2 linked regions of the Homo sapiens genome follow. The protein of the gene in region 1 purifies or fractionates together with the protein of each later gene. This does not show direct contact. Each region holds a gene or a part of one and is shown in the gene's direction. Other genes may lie near its edges.

The links.
Region 2: the proteins of TCTN2 (region 1) and TMEM231 purify together in Homo sapiens (affinity purification with mass spectrometry; 5 studies listed by BioGRID and IntAct, with this or other methods). This does not show direct contact.

What each region holds. Positions count from the first base shown.
Region 1 is NC_000012.12:123,693,814-123,703,559, forward strand, and holds part of TCTN2 (tectonic-2 isoform 1 precursor), read left to right. Parts: intron 1-1,028; coding exon 1,029-1,163; intron 1,164-1,406; coding exon 1,407-1,484; intron 1,485-2,601; coding exon 2,602-2,682; intron 2,683-3,273; coding exon 3,274-3,385; intron 3,386-5,890; coding exon 5,891-5,997; intron 5,998-9,746.
Region 2 is NC_000016.10:75,534,819-75,539,675, reverse strand, and holds the end of TMEM231 (transmembrane protein 231), read left to right. Parts: 3' UTR 1-2,935; downstream 2,936-4,857. UniProt on the Homo sapiens protein: Transmembrane component of the tectonic-like complex, a complex localized at the transition zone of primary cilia and acting as a barrier that prevents diffusion of transmembrane proteins between the cilia and plasma membranes.

The sequences.
Region 1 (9,746 bases):
TTTTCTTTTTTTTTTTTAATTGGAGACAGAGTCTTGCTCTGTCGCCCAGGCTGGAGTGCAATAGGGTGATCTCAGCTCACTGTACCCTCCACCTCCCAGGTTCAAGCAATTCTCATGCCTTAGCCTCCTGAGTAGCTGGGATTACAGGCACCTGCCACCAATCCCGGCTAATTTTTGTATTTTTTTGTATTTTTTTTTTTTTGAGACAGTCTCACTGTCACCCAGACTGGAGTGTAGTGACACAGTCTCCACTCACTGCAACCTCTGCCTCCTGGGTTCAAACGATTCTTCTGCCTCAGCCTCCCGAGTAGCTGGGATTACAGGTGCCTGCCCCCATGCCTGGCTGATTTTTTGTATTGTTAGTAGAGAGGGGGTTTCACTGTGTTGGCCAGGCTGGTCTTGAACTCCTGACCTCGTGATCTGCCTGCCTCAGCCTCCCAAAGTGCTGGGATTACAGGCGTGAGCCACCGCACCCGGCCTAATTTTTGTATTTTTAGTAGAGACAGGGTTTCGCCATGCTGGCCAGGCTGGTCTCGAACTCTTGACCTCAGGTGATCTGCCCACCTCGGCCTCCCCAAGTGCTGGGTGTCTCTTTCTGATGTGTTGTACTTCTCAAATTTATTCATTGGCTCATCAAATGTTAGTGGAGTTCCTACGCCGTAGTAGGGAACTAGATAGCGGGCCCCTGCCCTGGCGGAACTGACCCTCTGGTCTTTCATCTCACAAACATTTTACCAAGTGCATGCTCCATGGCAAGCTATGAGCCAGGTGCTGGAGATATAGAAATGAAAGGAACAGATCTCATTCTGGGTACTGTGATGGCATAGAGGAGGCAGCTAATGCTGACTTGGTGGGACCAGGGCAGGCTTCCTCAAGGAAGCAGTGACCGTGCCATGTTAGGGAGCTGGAGATAGGGAGGGCAGGGGCAGGGCACTTGGGGAAGGCCACGCAAGCAGAGAGAACCTCCCAGTAACAGAGTCAGGCTCAAAGAGGGTCTTTAATTTATGAACATATTCTTGTATTTGCAGAAACTCCTTTAAATAACGGATCAACCCCTAGAATTGTGAATGTGGAAGAACATTATATTTTCAAATGGAATAATAATACCATCAGTGAAATAAATGTTAAAATTTTTAGGGCAGAGATTAATGCCCACCAGAAAGGTAACTTTGATGAGGGTAGCAAGCATGCTTTCACTGAAAAGTATTTTTTTTTCCTCTTTTCAAGATTCTCATAATTATAACCCATAAAACTAAGTTGGACTTGTTTCTTATGTGCATTTATGATTTAATTAACGAGAGTACACTTTGTATGACAAAATGCAATTTTAAGGTAAACACTATGGAGAATAATTTCTTTTCCTAGTGAAATGGTGCACATTATATTTTATTTTGTTTTATTTCTAGGGATAATGACACAGAGATTTGTAGTAAAATTTTTAAGCTATAATAGTGGTAATGAAGAAGAATTATCTGGAAATCCAGGTAAGATGAGTATATGCCAGTCATTGATCTTACAAACATACTTTAGTTCAACACTCCCAGCCATCAGGATGGTTATAAGTAACTCTCTCCAATTTAGTTTCTGACTCTGACCTTTTTCTTTATTTTCTCTTTTTCTTTTTTTGAGACGGAGTCTTGCTCTGTTGCCTAGTCTGGAGTGCAGTGGCGCAATCTCGGCTCACTGCAACCTGCACCTCCTGGGTTCAAGAGATTTTCTTGCCTCAGCCTCCTGAGTAGCTGGGATTACAGGTGCACACCACCATGCCTGGCTTTTTTTTTTTTTTTTTAATCACACAACACAGGAAGTTTTATTCATCTGCTACTTCTCCAAAGAGAGGCTTGCAGGGTTGCTCACTTTAATATAATTTTTATATTTTTAGTAGAGATAGGCTGTTGTTCACCGTGTTGGCCAGGCTGGTCTTGAATTCCTGACCTCAAGTGATCCCCTGGCCTTAGCCTCCCAAAGTGTTGTGATTACAGGCATGAGCCACTGCCCCAGCCTCTTTATTCTCTGTTGTGGCACTGTATTCATTTTTTTTTTTTTTGAGACGGAGTTTAACTCTTGTCACCCAGGCTGGAGTGCAATGGCACGATTTGGGCTCACTGCAACCTCCACCTTCCAGGTTCAAGCAATTCTCCTGCCTCAGCCTCCCAAGTAGCTGGGATTACAGGTGCCCACCAACACCCTCAGCAAATTTTTGTACTTTTAGTAGAGATGAGGTTTTGCCATATTGGCCATACTGGTCTCGAACTCCTGACCTCAGGTGATCCACCCACCTCGGCCTCCCAAAGTGCTAGGATTACAGGCGTGAGCCACTACGCCTGGCCGACATGGTATTCTTTTTGTGATAACAATGTATTTTTTTTTTTTACATAGTCTGTTGTACATAGTAACAAGTTGCTGTAAATGTGAAGCATTCTTTCTCTTTAGCTACTGTTTTTTTTGAGACCCGAAGTTGCCATCTTTCTCTCAAGGGTATTTTCGAAAGCTTCGCCTATGTGTTTTCTTTCCTTGTGCATGACTCTTGTATTATTTGCAGAGTTAGGGCTTGCTATGCTGGAGGAAACAGGCTCACGTTCCTTTGTTGTGTTTGTCTAGGTTACCAACTTGGCAAGCCTGTCCGAGCTCTAAATATCAACAGGATGAATAATGTCACGACTTTACATCTTTGGCAATCGGGTAATCCGGTTTGGTCATTATGATTAGCCCTTTGGCAAATTGGTGTTAGAAGTATTACCATATTTTGAATCTAATCAAGCAATCAATTATTTTAAAGCCTAGTTGGTTTATTTAGCAGAGAGGTACATGCTGCTGAATAACAGTGATGATGGTTTTTCCTGCTTCTACAGCTTTTTAAAAAGGAATGCTAACATTGTTTGCACCTGAAGTGCTGGTTGCTAGTAGAAAAGATTGAAATATGAGATTGGCTTGAGAGTCCCATGTTATTGTTGCCTGTAGCCCAGGATGGTGCTAATTGGAGACATGAAAATAACTTCGTTCTGAACTGCAGGAAATCTGTGCTTCAGTGGTAATTACGCACACCTGCCAGAGGCAGTGTCACTTCTGAAGAAACCACCGCTCAGGATCTGAGAAGTCTGATAAAGGCACCTTTGTTCAGCTTTGAAAGGATTAGACTAACAGTGATCTCAGTTTTTGAAAACTGGCAACTTTATTTCTACTTACTGTTTTCTGTTTTTCACGGAAAACTGAAGTTAATCTTTACTTTTGTTTAGCAAAAAGTAGCAAGAGGATAATCTTTTTCTTTTATAGCTGGAAGGGGTCTGTGTACATCAGCAACTTTCAAACCCATTTTATTTGGAGAAAATGTACTCTCTGGATGCCTGTTAGAAGTCGGGATTAATGAAAATTGTACTCAGCTCAGGTGAGTGTTTCATTGATGAATATATCGGCAATGTGAATGGTTTGCCTAGAATTAATTCACTACATGAATATCAAAGACAGCATGAATATGAAAAATTAGAGTCAATTAAAATGTGTAAAAGTGATAATAAATACAGACATGTAATACAATTTAGAGTTGATTCAAACATCAATATGAGGGAAAATAAACTTTTTCTTGGGACTAAAGCCAGTTCATCCACATTTAAGCAAATTTCATCCACATTTAAACAAATGTCTCTGCCAAAGTTTGTTCAGCTCATTGGAACCTTTTTTGTTGTTGTTGTGTGGTTTTTTTTGTTGAGATGAAGTCTCACTTTGTCACCTAGGCTGGAGTGCAGTGGTGCGATCTCGGCTCATTGCAGCTTCTGCCTCTCCGGTTCAAGCAATTCTCCTGCCTTAGCCTCCCTAGCAGCTGGGATTACAGGCATGCACCACCACGCCTGCTGATTTTTTTTGTATTTTTAGTAGAGATGGGGTTTCACAATGTTGGTCTCAAACTCCTAACCTCAAGTGACCTTGCCCACCTTGGCCTCCCAAAGTGCTGGGATTATAGGCGTAAGCCACCGCGCCTGGCCTCATTGGAACCTTATACTCCTAGAGCTATGAAAAAGGCCAGAGCAAAGTGTAACTGGGGTGATTAACTTTTTTTTTTTTTTTTTTGAGACAGGGTCTCACTGTGTTTCCCAGGCTCGGGTGCAGTGGTGCAATCATGGCTTACTGCAGCCCCAACCTCCCCAGGCTCAGGTGGTCCTCCACCTGCCTTGGCTTCCTAAAGTGCTGGGATTACAGGCATGAGTCACTCTGCTGGCCTATGTTCTGTTTTTGTTTTTGTTTTTGTTTTGAGACAGAGTTTCACTCTTGTTGCCCAGGCTGGAGTGCAATGGCATAATCTCAGCTCACTGCAGCCTCTGCCTCCCAGGTTCAAGTGATTCTCCTGCCTCAGCCTCCTGAGTAGCTGGGATTACAGGCATGTGCCACCTCACCTGGCTAATTTTGTATTTTTAGTAGAGATGGGGTTTCTCCATGTTAGTCAGGCTGGTCTTGAACTCCTGACCTCAGGTGATCTGCCCTCCTCAGCCTCCTAAAGTGCTGGGATTACAGGTGTGAGCCACTGTGCCCAGCCTTGTTTTTTGTTTTTTTGTTTTTGTTTTTTTTTTTGACAGTAGCCATCCTAATAGATACTAAGTGGTATCTCATTGTGGTTTTGATTGCATGCGTTCTTTTTGGCTTGTTTTTTGAGACAAGGTCTCACTCCATCACCCAGACTGGAGCGCAGTGGTGTGATCACGGCTCGTTGCAGCCTGACCCTCTTGAGCTCAGGTGATCCTCCCACTTCACCCTCCCGAGTATCTTGGAGTACAGGTGTGTGCCTGGCTGATTTTTCGTATTTTTTGTAGAGATGGGGTTTCACCGTGTTGCTCAGGCTGCTCTCAAACTGCTGGGCTCAAACGATCCTCCTGCCTTGGCCTCCCAAAGTGCTGGGGTTACAAGCATGAACCATTATGCCCGGCCTGCATGCACTCTTACACACGTTTTATCTGTTACATATCCCAAGATGTGTAGTTCTTTGGGAAGCAGGAAGAAATGGGGGTAACATTGAGAAGTTAAGGAAAACTGGTATAAATTATTGGCAGCAGCTCCTGATTATAGGTTTTGAGGCCTGAGTCCATGGGCAGAGTCCCTCTCCTGCAGTTCATGAGATTTGTACCCTCCAGTGACAGTACTGGGAAGGAGGGAATGCTACGTTCCAACTCTTAGTCTTCACTTAATTTTATGACTCAAAATTCCAGCTAGATATATAGGTTACTTTTACTGTTGGATCACTCTGGCCCACGAATGTATCCTGCTAACTTGATGTGTGCTCTAACTACCTCCTAAGTTTGGTGACAGTCGGCAGAGTTTGTGAACCATGTGATTCCCAACTTAAGTTACTAACATTTTTTTTTTTTTTTTGAGACAGGATCTTGCTCTGTCACCCAGGCTGGAGTGCAGTGGTACGATCTCAGCTCACTGTAGCCTTAACCCCACCAGGCTTATGCGCTCCTCCCACCTCAGCCTCCCAAGTAGTTGGAACTATAGGTGCATACCACCATGCCTGGCTAATTTTTGTATTTTTTGTAGAGGCAGGGTTTTGCCCTGTTGCCCAGGCTGGTCTTGAACTCCTGAGCTCAAGCAATCCTCCCACCTCAGCCTCCCAAAGGGTTGGGATTACAGGTGTGAGCCACTGCACCCGGCCAAGTTACTAACATTTTAAGTCTAAAGTAAAAGATTGCTTCTGTATGTTCTCCCCCAGGTGTGTGGGTCCATCCTGGGAAGGCCATCAGACACACCTAGTCCATGGGTGACACCCAGCCAGTTTTTAATGCCAGTTCCTCTGGCAGTTTTTAATTTAGGCACTCGGAAGTGAAACCCGGACATTCACTGGAAATGACTTTAGGACAAGACCTGCTGGCCATGAGCTGAGAAATGTCTTACTCTCTTGCAGGGAGAATGCTGTTGAAAGACTTGATTCATTAATACAAGCGACTCACGTTGCAATGAGAGGCAACTCCGATTACGCTGATCTTAGTGATGGCTGGCTCGAAATAATACGTAAGTCAAACCCGGGTACAATAAAGCCTGTAACTTGGTTGCTGTGACTACCAACTGTAGTCGCAGCATTAGAGCCCAACCCAGTAGGTCATCTTCCTGAGGCTTGACTGCGGCTTAACTGGACGTTTGCCCAGGGGTTAGATCTCCAGGCAGGAAACTTGGCATGTCTTTTTCTTCTTATTCACAATGACTTTTTTGATTTTCTGTTTTTGTTTTTTTGAGACAGGGTTTCATTCTGTCACCCAGGCTGGAGTGCAGTGGTGCAATCACAGCTCATTGCCTCCTCATCCTCCCAGGCTCAAGGGATCCTCCCGCCTCAGCCTTCCAAGTAGCTGGAACCACAGGTGTGCGCCACCACATCTGGCTAATTTTTTTATTATTTGTAGAAATGGGTTTCGCCATGTTGCCCAGGCTGGTCATTAACTCCTGGGCTTAAGTGATCTGCCCACCCCAACCTCTTAAACCCCAACCATGTTGGGATTACAGGCATGAGCCATTGCGCCTGGCCAACAACAGTCTTTGTGAAAGAAAGTCTAGGCTGGGAGCAGTGGCTCACACTTATAATCCCAGCACTTTGGGAGGTCAATGCAAGAGGATTGCTTGAGGCCAGTTTTTTTGTTTGTTTGGTTGGTTTTTTTTGAGACGGAGTCTTGCTCTTGTCACCCATGCTGGAGTGCAATGGCACAATCTCGGCTCACTGCAACCTCTGCCTCCTAGGTTCAGGTGATTCTCCTGCCTTAGCCTCCCAAGTAGCTGGGATTACAGGCGCCCACCACCACCTGGCTAATTTTTGTATTTTTTAAATAGAGACGGGGTTTCACCATGTTGGCCAGGCTGGTCTCGAACTCCTGACCCCGTGATCCACCTGCCTCGGCCTCCCAAAGTGCTGGGATTATAGGCGTTAGCCACCGTGCCAGGCCGAGGCCAGGAGTTTAAGACCAGCCTGGGCAACATAGTGAGACCTTGTCTCTATGAAAAATTTAAAAAATTAGTCGAATGTGGTGGCATGTCCCTGCAGTCCCAGCTACTTGGGATGCTGAGGAAAGAGGATCGCTGGAGCCTAGGAGTTTGAGGCTACAGTGAGCTCTGATTACACCATCACACTCCAACCTGGATGACAGAGCAAGATCCTGACTCTAAAAATAAAACAAAATAAAATAAAATACATTAAAACAAAGTCCAAGCAAGGTTTGAAGATTGTTAGTGCACTTCAGTTTGCATTGCTGTTTTTGATTGCCAGGAATACAGGCATTTGAGAATTGACTTTGTAATTTATAAAGGTAATTTTGTTAACTTAAAAGAAAATAAAGTGATTGAAAATATTGTGATAGAAGCCAGACACAAAAGACCACATATTGTATGACTCAATTTATATGCAATGTCCAGAATGGGCAATGTATAGAGACAGCAGATTAGTGGATGCCGGAGGTGGAGGAGTTGGGAGGAAATGGGGAGAGACTGCCGTGGGTAAAGGATTTCTTCGCAGAGTGATAAAATGTTCTAAAATAGAATCTGCTGATAGTCACAGCTTTGTGACTATACCAGAAACCATCGAATTGCACACTTTAAGTAGGTGGATTGTATAGTATGTGAATTATATCTCAATAAAGCTGTCAGGAAAGAAAGTAATTAAGGTGCAACAGATCGGCTGGGCACGGTGGCTCATATCTGTAATCCCAGCACTTTGGGAGGCCGAGGCGGGTGGATCACGAGGTCAGGAGATCGAGAGCATCCTGCCTAACACAGGTGAAACCCCGTCTCTACTAAAAATAAAAAAAAAAAATTAGCCGGGCGTGGTGGTGGGCGCCTGTAGTCCCAGCTACTCGGGAGGCTGAGGCAGGAGAATGGTAGGAACCCGGGAGGCGGAGCTTGCTGTGAGCCGAGATTGCGCCACTGCACTCCAGCCTGGGCGACAGAGCAAGACTCCGTCTCACAAAAAAAAAAAAAGGGTGCAACAGATCTAATAATAGCAGGGATCATGGGGGCCAGATAGAAAGACTTGACAGCTCAGTGCCTCTGGCCAAAGGTATTTGCAGTGTTGAATTGGCAAGTAGCTCGTACACAAAGGGAAAAAGATATACCACATGTACATGGAATAAAGGTAAACCAGACTTTAAAGCTTCTTCATCAGGCCTGATTTCACCTCTGAATCCAAAATATCCTTTGAGTCATGGAGATCCAGCTCATCGGGTTATGTTGGAGAGGCCTAAGGTCACAGTGAGTTTTGGCAGAGCTAGAATGAAAACCTGGGGTTCCAACCTCTTTCCTCTGTTCCCTGGTAGCAAGTTAGGTAACTTCCCGGTTTCTTGGGGAGCCTTGAGTCTGTAAATACTTTGAATGGAAAGCTTTTTTTATTGAGCTAATTAATGGAATTGCCTTTTGGGACCAGAAAGAGCCCAATGAGTGTGCGCATCTGCTTTGCCCCTGCCCAGCTCTCCCTGCAGATGCTGCTCTGCCCCTCTCCTCTGCCTGGTGGGTAGGGATCAGCCCTCTGGATCCTGTCCCTACCCTTTCCATCTCCTCTGAGGTCAGCTAGGCTCAGTAGGCTGGAATTCACACAACGGCCCATACAGACACACACCTGTATTGTGCCTACTCCTTGTGATTGGGGTCATGGTGATGAGGACCCTCCCTTCCCCCTCTTGGTCATGGATAATGTGATATGTCTGTGAGCTTGAGGTGCCCCAGACCACTCTCTGACTTGGGGAGGGAGTCCTGTTGGACTCCACCCCCACGGGGCACTCAGGCTGCTGTTTGCTCATCTAGCTGGTGCTCAAGGCACTGGGCCCAGACCTAGATCCTCATTTGCAAACGGAACCCAGAGGTCGAGCTTGTCAAGCCCTGGGCTCTGCCACCCAGGCCAGCTAGATAGGCTGTGGAATGACCCTGAGGGCTGGAGAAAAGTCAGCAGTTGGGAAATAAACGGTAGGGAAAATGTCCAGACGGAGAACCCAGGTTGATGAGGTACGAAATCAGTGTGGTGATGACATTTTGTTGCCTTCAAGGTGGAAGGGGTTAGCTTTTATTTCATGTCTGAGCCAAAAAGCAACCTTGATCCTGGTTAATAAGCAGAAGAGAAGTGGTGTTGACACATGTATAAGGAAATTAGACATAAAACAGTGTTACTGACCTTCGGAATCCCTGAAGGAGCAAAGAACCCCCTTCAGAGGAGCCATAGAACCTACCCTACTTCCTCCAATTGACCTTGCTGGGTTTTCTCCAAGACGAATGCAAATTCATTTCTCATTCAATTTCATTCTCTTCCAATTGTATTAATACTATGGTAACACATTAGGAAATTACTTACCTATCTAATACATACTAATTAAAGTCGTTAGTGTGGATTTTGTTTTATTATTATTTTTTTTTCAATTATTATCATTATTTTTTTTTTGAGATGGAGTCTCACTTTGTTGCTGGAGTGCAGTGGCATGATCTCGGCTCACTGCAACCTCCACCTCCCAGGTTTCAAGTGATTCTCCTGCCTCAGCCTCCCAAGTAGCTGGGATTACAGGTGTGCGCCACCATACCTGGCCAATTTTTGTATTTTTAGTAGAGACAGGGTTTCACCATGTTGGCCAGGCTGGTCTCGAACTCCTGACCTCAGGTCATCCACCCACCTCAGCCTCCCAAAGTGTTGGGATTACAGGCGTGAGCCACCACGCCCGACTGATTTTTATTTTTATTTTTTGAGATGAGGTTCTCACTTTTGTCCAGGCTGGAATGTAGTGGTGCCATGCCATCACGGC
Region 2 (4,857 bases), on another chromosome or scaffold:
ATCTCTGGTCAAGCAGAGACTTTTCCTCTGTTGAACTGAGGAACACACTGTGCATTTCTACCTTCTGTTGTGAGCCACTCTTACTCTTTTCAGGGCTCTCTTGTGACAAACATGCCAATCACTAGCACTTTGCACCCCTGGGCTTCTCCATTTCCCATTCACAGCTTTGATTTCCAGAGCTGAGGCCTTTAACTGGAGACCTGGAGGGGCAGGGCCCAAGGGCAAGGGCCGCATTAGCACAGGCAATCAGGGAGGGCCGCTGAAGGACACTTGGACCGTCCACCTGCCCCAGCCCAACAGTCAGTCATCTGTCATCAGCTCAGCTGAGCAGCCCTGGATCTTTGCCGTACTGTGACTGGGCTCTTTGCCCTATTTTTCCCTCTGTCTGTGCCCCTGGATGGCAGGCTGAAGTCAGAGGGGCTGTTTCATTCTCAGCCCCCTCAGCAGCACTGGGGGAAGAAAGCATTGTCACAACAGGTTCTTTCTGGCCCTCACCCAACAGCCTGGGCACTTGGCCCTCCTCCTCCTTGACAGCCCTCCCCCTTCCTGCAAAGGACAGGGGCGACAGGGGTTGGTGTTGGGATTGGCTCCCGCTGCCTGACAACCACAAGTTTATTTGGAAGGCTAGCGGGAAGCCCAGCGGCTGGCGTTTCCCTTGACTAAGGAACAGGGTGCCCATCAGAGTGGGGCGGGCAGCTTTGGGAAGGACACAAGAAGCAGTAAGAGTGTAAAGAGGATGCTGGCCTGGGCAGGCCAGTCCAGCCTGGCCACTAGCAGAATACCAAGCAGTCCAGTGGATTACCCTCGTGGCTAAGCAAGTGTCTGCAGGAGCAGAGATGGCTGGAAGGGGCCTCTGCACACGGAAGATGGCTTGTTCAGCCCATTCACCTCCTGAGGATGTGGGCAGTCTCCTCCAAGAACACATGGAGCTGCTTCCTGATCCCAAGCAGGTCATTGCCACTGGAAGGACATGGCCCCGGTGATCCATGCTTCATGCCCACCCAGAAACACACCCCTCAGTGTGTGCCTCAGTTTACTTTGGAGATCAGTTGTCGTTTTTAGTGCTCCTTTAGGCTTACTAAAACAGTTTTGGAAACAAAGCTATTTTGAAGTATTCAAGCAGAGGAATTCCCTAACACTGACCCCCTTGTCTTTTTTTAATATTCAGGCTGTTTTATATGCCTAAATTTTTTTCTTAAGATCTAAACGAAAAATAGTTTCTTGTTTAAATTCACATAAGGCAATGAGATATGGAAAGATGACAAGATACGTATAAACATTGGTTTGCATTTTATTAAATTATTCTAATGCAAATCTTGTATAAAGAACCCATGATGTTTTGTAACTTTCTAATTAAAATGTTCAAAATGAGGCCGAGCATGGTGGTTCATTCCTGTAATCTCAACACTTTGGGAGGCCAAGGTGGGAGGATCACTTGAGCCCAGGAGCTTGAGGCTGCAGTGTGCTATGATTGCACCACTGTACTGTAGCCTGGGTGACAGAGTGAGACCCTATCTGTTAAAATAAATAAATAAATAAATAAAAAAGTCAAAATGGAAGATCACATGTACCTTTTTCGAGGGAAAGGGTTTGGAATGGCAAAGAATAGGGAGGGCAGAGGTTGCACACACCTGTCTTTATTACTCATCTACAGCCATGCTTTACAAGGCTCTGCCTAACGACCTTGGAACTTCCATGAGGTCTTTGGTGAAAGTCCCCTAGTTCTTCCCCAGGTAGATGAGTTTTCAGTGGGATTCACATGCCATGTGAAATCTACGTGTTGGATAATTATGACTGTGTCTGGTGAATATGAAATTATTTACAGACCAGATGTTGATAGTTTCTGACTCTGAATCACAGCATAGCTGCAAGAGGTAAATAAAAAGCAAGAGGCCGGGAGCGGTGGCTCACGCCTGTAATCCCAGCACTTTGGGAGGCCGAGGTGGGTGAATCACAAGGTCAGGAGATCGAGACCATCCTGGCCAACATGGTGAAACCCCATCTCCACTAAAAATACAAAAATTGGCTGGGTGTGGCGACACGTGCCTGTCATCCCAACTATTTAGTAGGCTGAGGCAGGAGAATCGCTTGAACCCTGGAGGCGGAGGTTGCAGTGAGCCGAGATTGCGCCACTGCACTCCAGCCTGGCAACAGAGCTAGACTCCGTCTCAAAAAAAAAAAAAAAAAGAAATATAGAGGATTTTATTAACTCAGCTCCGACCCATAGCTAAGTTAAGGTTTGATGTTATTACTGAATATTTGGAGGCAGAAAGACTCCTGATTTTGCCAAATGATTAGTACAGTTTCGGCTTAAGTCAGATGAGGCCCCCCTAATATTCCATCATGTAAGGCTAATAAAGCAATTATTTCTTTTTTTTTTTTCCTTCCAACTTTTATTGTAGACTCATGGGGTATATGTATGGGTTTCGTATATAGCTAAATTGTACAACCTGGGGGTTTGGTGTACAGATTATTTCATCACCCACGTAATAAGCATAGTACCCAGTAGGTGGTTTTTCTTTTCTTTTTCTTTTTCTTTTTTTTTTTTTTTTTTGAGACAGAGTCTCACTCTGTTACCCAGGCTGGAGTGCAGCAGCATGATCTCAGCTCATTGCAGCCTCTACCTCCCAGGTTCAAGTGATTCTCCTGCCTTACCCTCCCGAGTAGCTGGGATTACGGGTGCCCACCACCATGCCCGGCTAATTTTTGTGTTTTTAGTAGAGACAGGGCTTCACCCTGGTGGTCAGGCTGGTCTCGAACTCCTGACCTCAAGTGATCCATCCGCTTTGGCCACCCAAAGTGCTGGGATCACAGCAGTTTGATCACAGAAGTTATTATGGTTGGCATTCTGGCACACATCTTTCTAATCTTTTTTGTTGTATGTAACCTTTTTAGTATCACAAACAACACTTTTATAAACCTTGTGTAGAAATCATTGTTGCTGGTTTATTTCCTTAAGATACATTCAGAAAACTTATGACCATTGTTAAGGATCTTAATTCATTGCCAAACCACAGCCAGGAAAGACTGCTAATTTCTACTCCCAGCAGCAGGGACTCCTCGTTTCAGATACCACCATGGATTAAAGGACCTCCCAATGCTCTATCCTTTTCAGATTACTGGACTCTGCCCGTTTGTTTCTTTGTTTTTGAGATGGAGTCTCGCTTTGTCACCCAGTCTGGAGTGCAATGGCCCCATCTCCGCTCACTGCAGCCTCCACCTCCGGGGTTCAAGCTATTCTCCTGTCTCAGCCTACCTAGTAGCTGGGATTACAGGCATGTGCTACCATGCGCGGCTAAATTTTGTATTTTCAGTAGAGATGGGGTTTTGCCACGTTGACCAGGCTGGTCTTGAACTCCTGACCTCAAGTGATCTGCCTGCCTTGCCTCCCAAAGTGCCGGGATTACAGTCATATGCCACCAGGCCAGGCTGAGCTGTTATTTGTAAGGGGTGGGTGGGGAGCTTTTATTTACTGAAACATATCCTGTATTCATTGGAACATGTTATCAAGCCTGCGCCTCTGGGCGGAGGCTAGGGCAGGGAGGGCACAGCTCCTAAGGCCACCTGGTCTTTCAACTCCTCCCAGCTGGGACACTGCACCGGGAGGCAGCACGGATTCCTGTGTCATCAAGGTGCCTGGGTCTTGGCTTAGGGCTGAGGTTGGGGCCTTGGGAAGGGTTTGGATTCCAAGTCCCTTGGCTGCAAGGATGCCCCCAAGAGCGAGGAGGGCCAAGATTAAGATTCGACTTCCTTCACTAGGGCCTTTGTCCTCCCAGGAGCTCCCAGGTTCTCTGGCGATTGGGGGGGTGAGGAAGGGTTACAACGTTCATTTGTGGTCAGTTAGATGAGAAGTGACTCTGCCAGCGTCCTTTGACATCCCCGGCTAAAAGGTGCGCCTCTTAGAGCCCCAGCCCACCTGGGCCCTCCTGCTCTGCCCTCGGCCAGCGCCCCTCCCCGAGACATGGCCCCTCGGTCGGGGGTGGGGAGAGGGAGCTGGGGGCAAAACCTGCTCCTTCCTTCCTTCTCCCATTTCCCTGGCTCCCGCCGGCCACCCTGGGACCGCAGCCACGTCTGAAAGCTCCTCACCAGGCAGCGCTGAAGATTGCGGGGCAGCGCCGAGGGTTGTTGGCCGGCGCGCGGGGAGTAGAGGGCGCGGGCCGCAGTGCCGGGCTCCGGAGGGAGCTCTGCGCCGGGTCCTTCCCTGTGGTAGCCCCAGGACACCCCCATCCTCAACATCCCATTCTGGGACTCCTGCCCTGTTCCCAGATTCGCTCTGCCTCGAGTCTCCAGGAGCTTCCAGTGGCTTGGTTACCCCCGACTCTTCGTCCATGCCTCTTAGAGCCCCTTTCCCAGCCTCACTGGGTGTCCCTTAATAGTCTTGGGACCTTAAGGAGCAAGTCAGCCCCTGCGGAACCTCCCAGTGAAGAGAAAGAGCTGGCTGTGCGGTGGAACTTGGAAGAGACGACGTCTGGGAGCTTTTGCTGAGCCCAGGGGGAGAGGCGTCCCTCTGGCTGCTGCTCCAGCTCTGGCAGACACGCCAAGCTTTGAGGTACTTTGGTTCTTCATTCTCCACCGGAGGTGTCCCCACACTCGGTTGGGCTGGGGGCCGGGCCAGTGGCCCAGCTGTGACGCTCCTCTGTCCTGCACCAGAGACCTGGGTTGGCGGGAAGAGCTGGGGGTGGCTTTTCCATCAGCAACGTGGAAAGTTCATCTCCCCTGCTAGCGCTGGTTTGGAAGTGTCTTGCTGGGGCTTCGGCTGCACGCGGGAATCCTCACTGCGCAGGGCAGGGGTCGGGGTGCGGGTTCTTATTCCATACTTGGGTCTCAAAGGGTGTGGCTTTCAAAAGCTCTCCATGA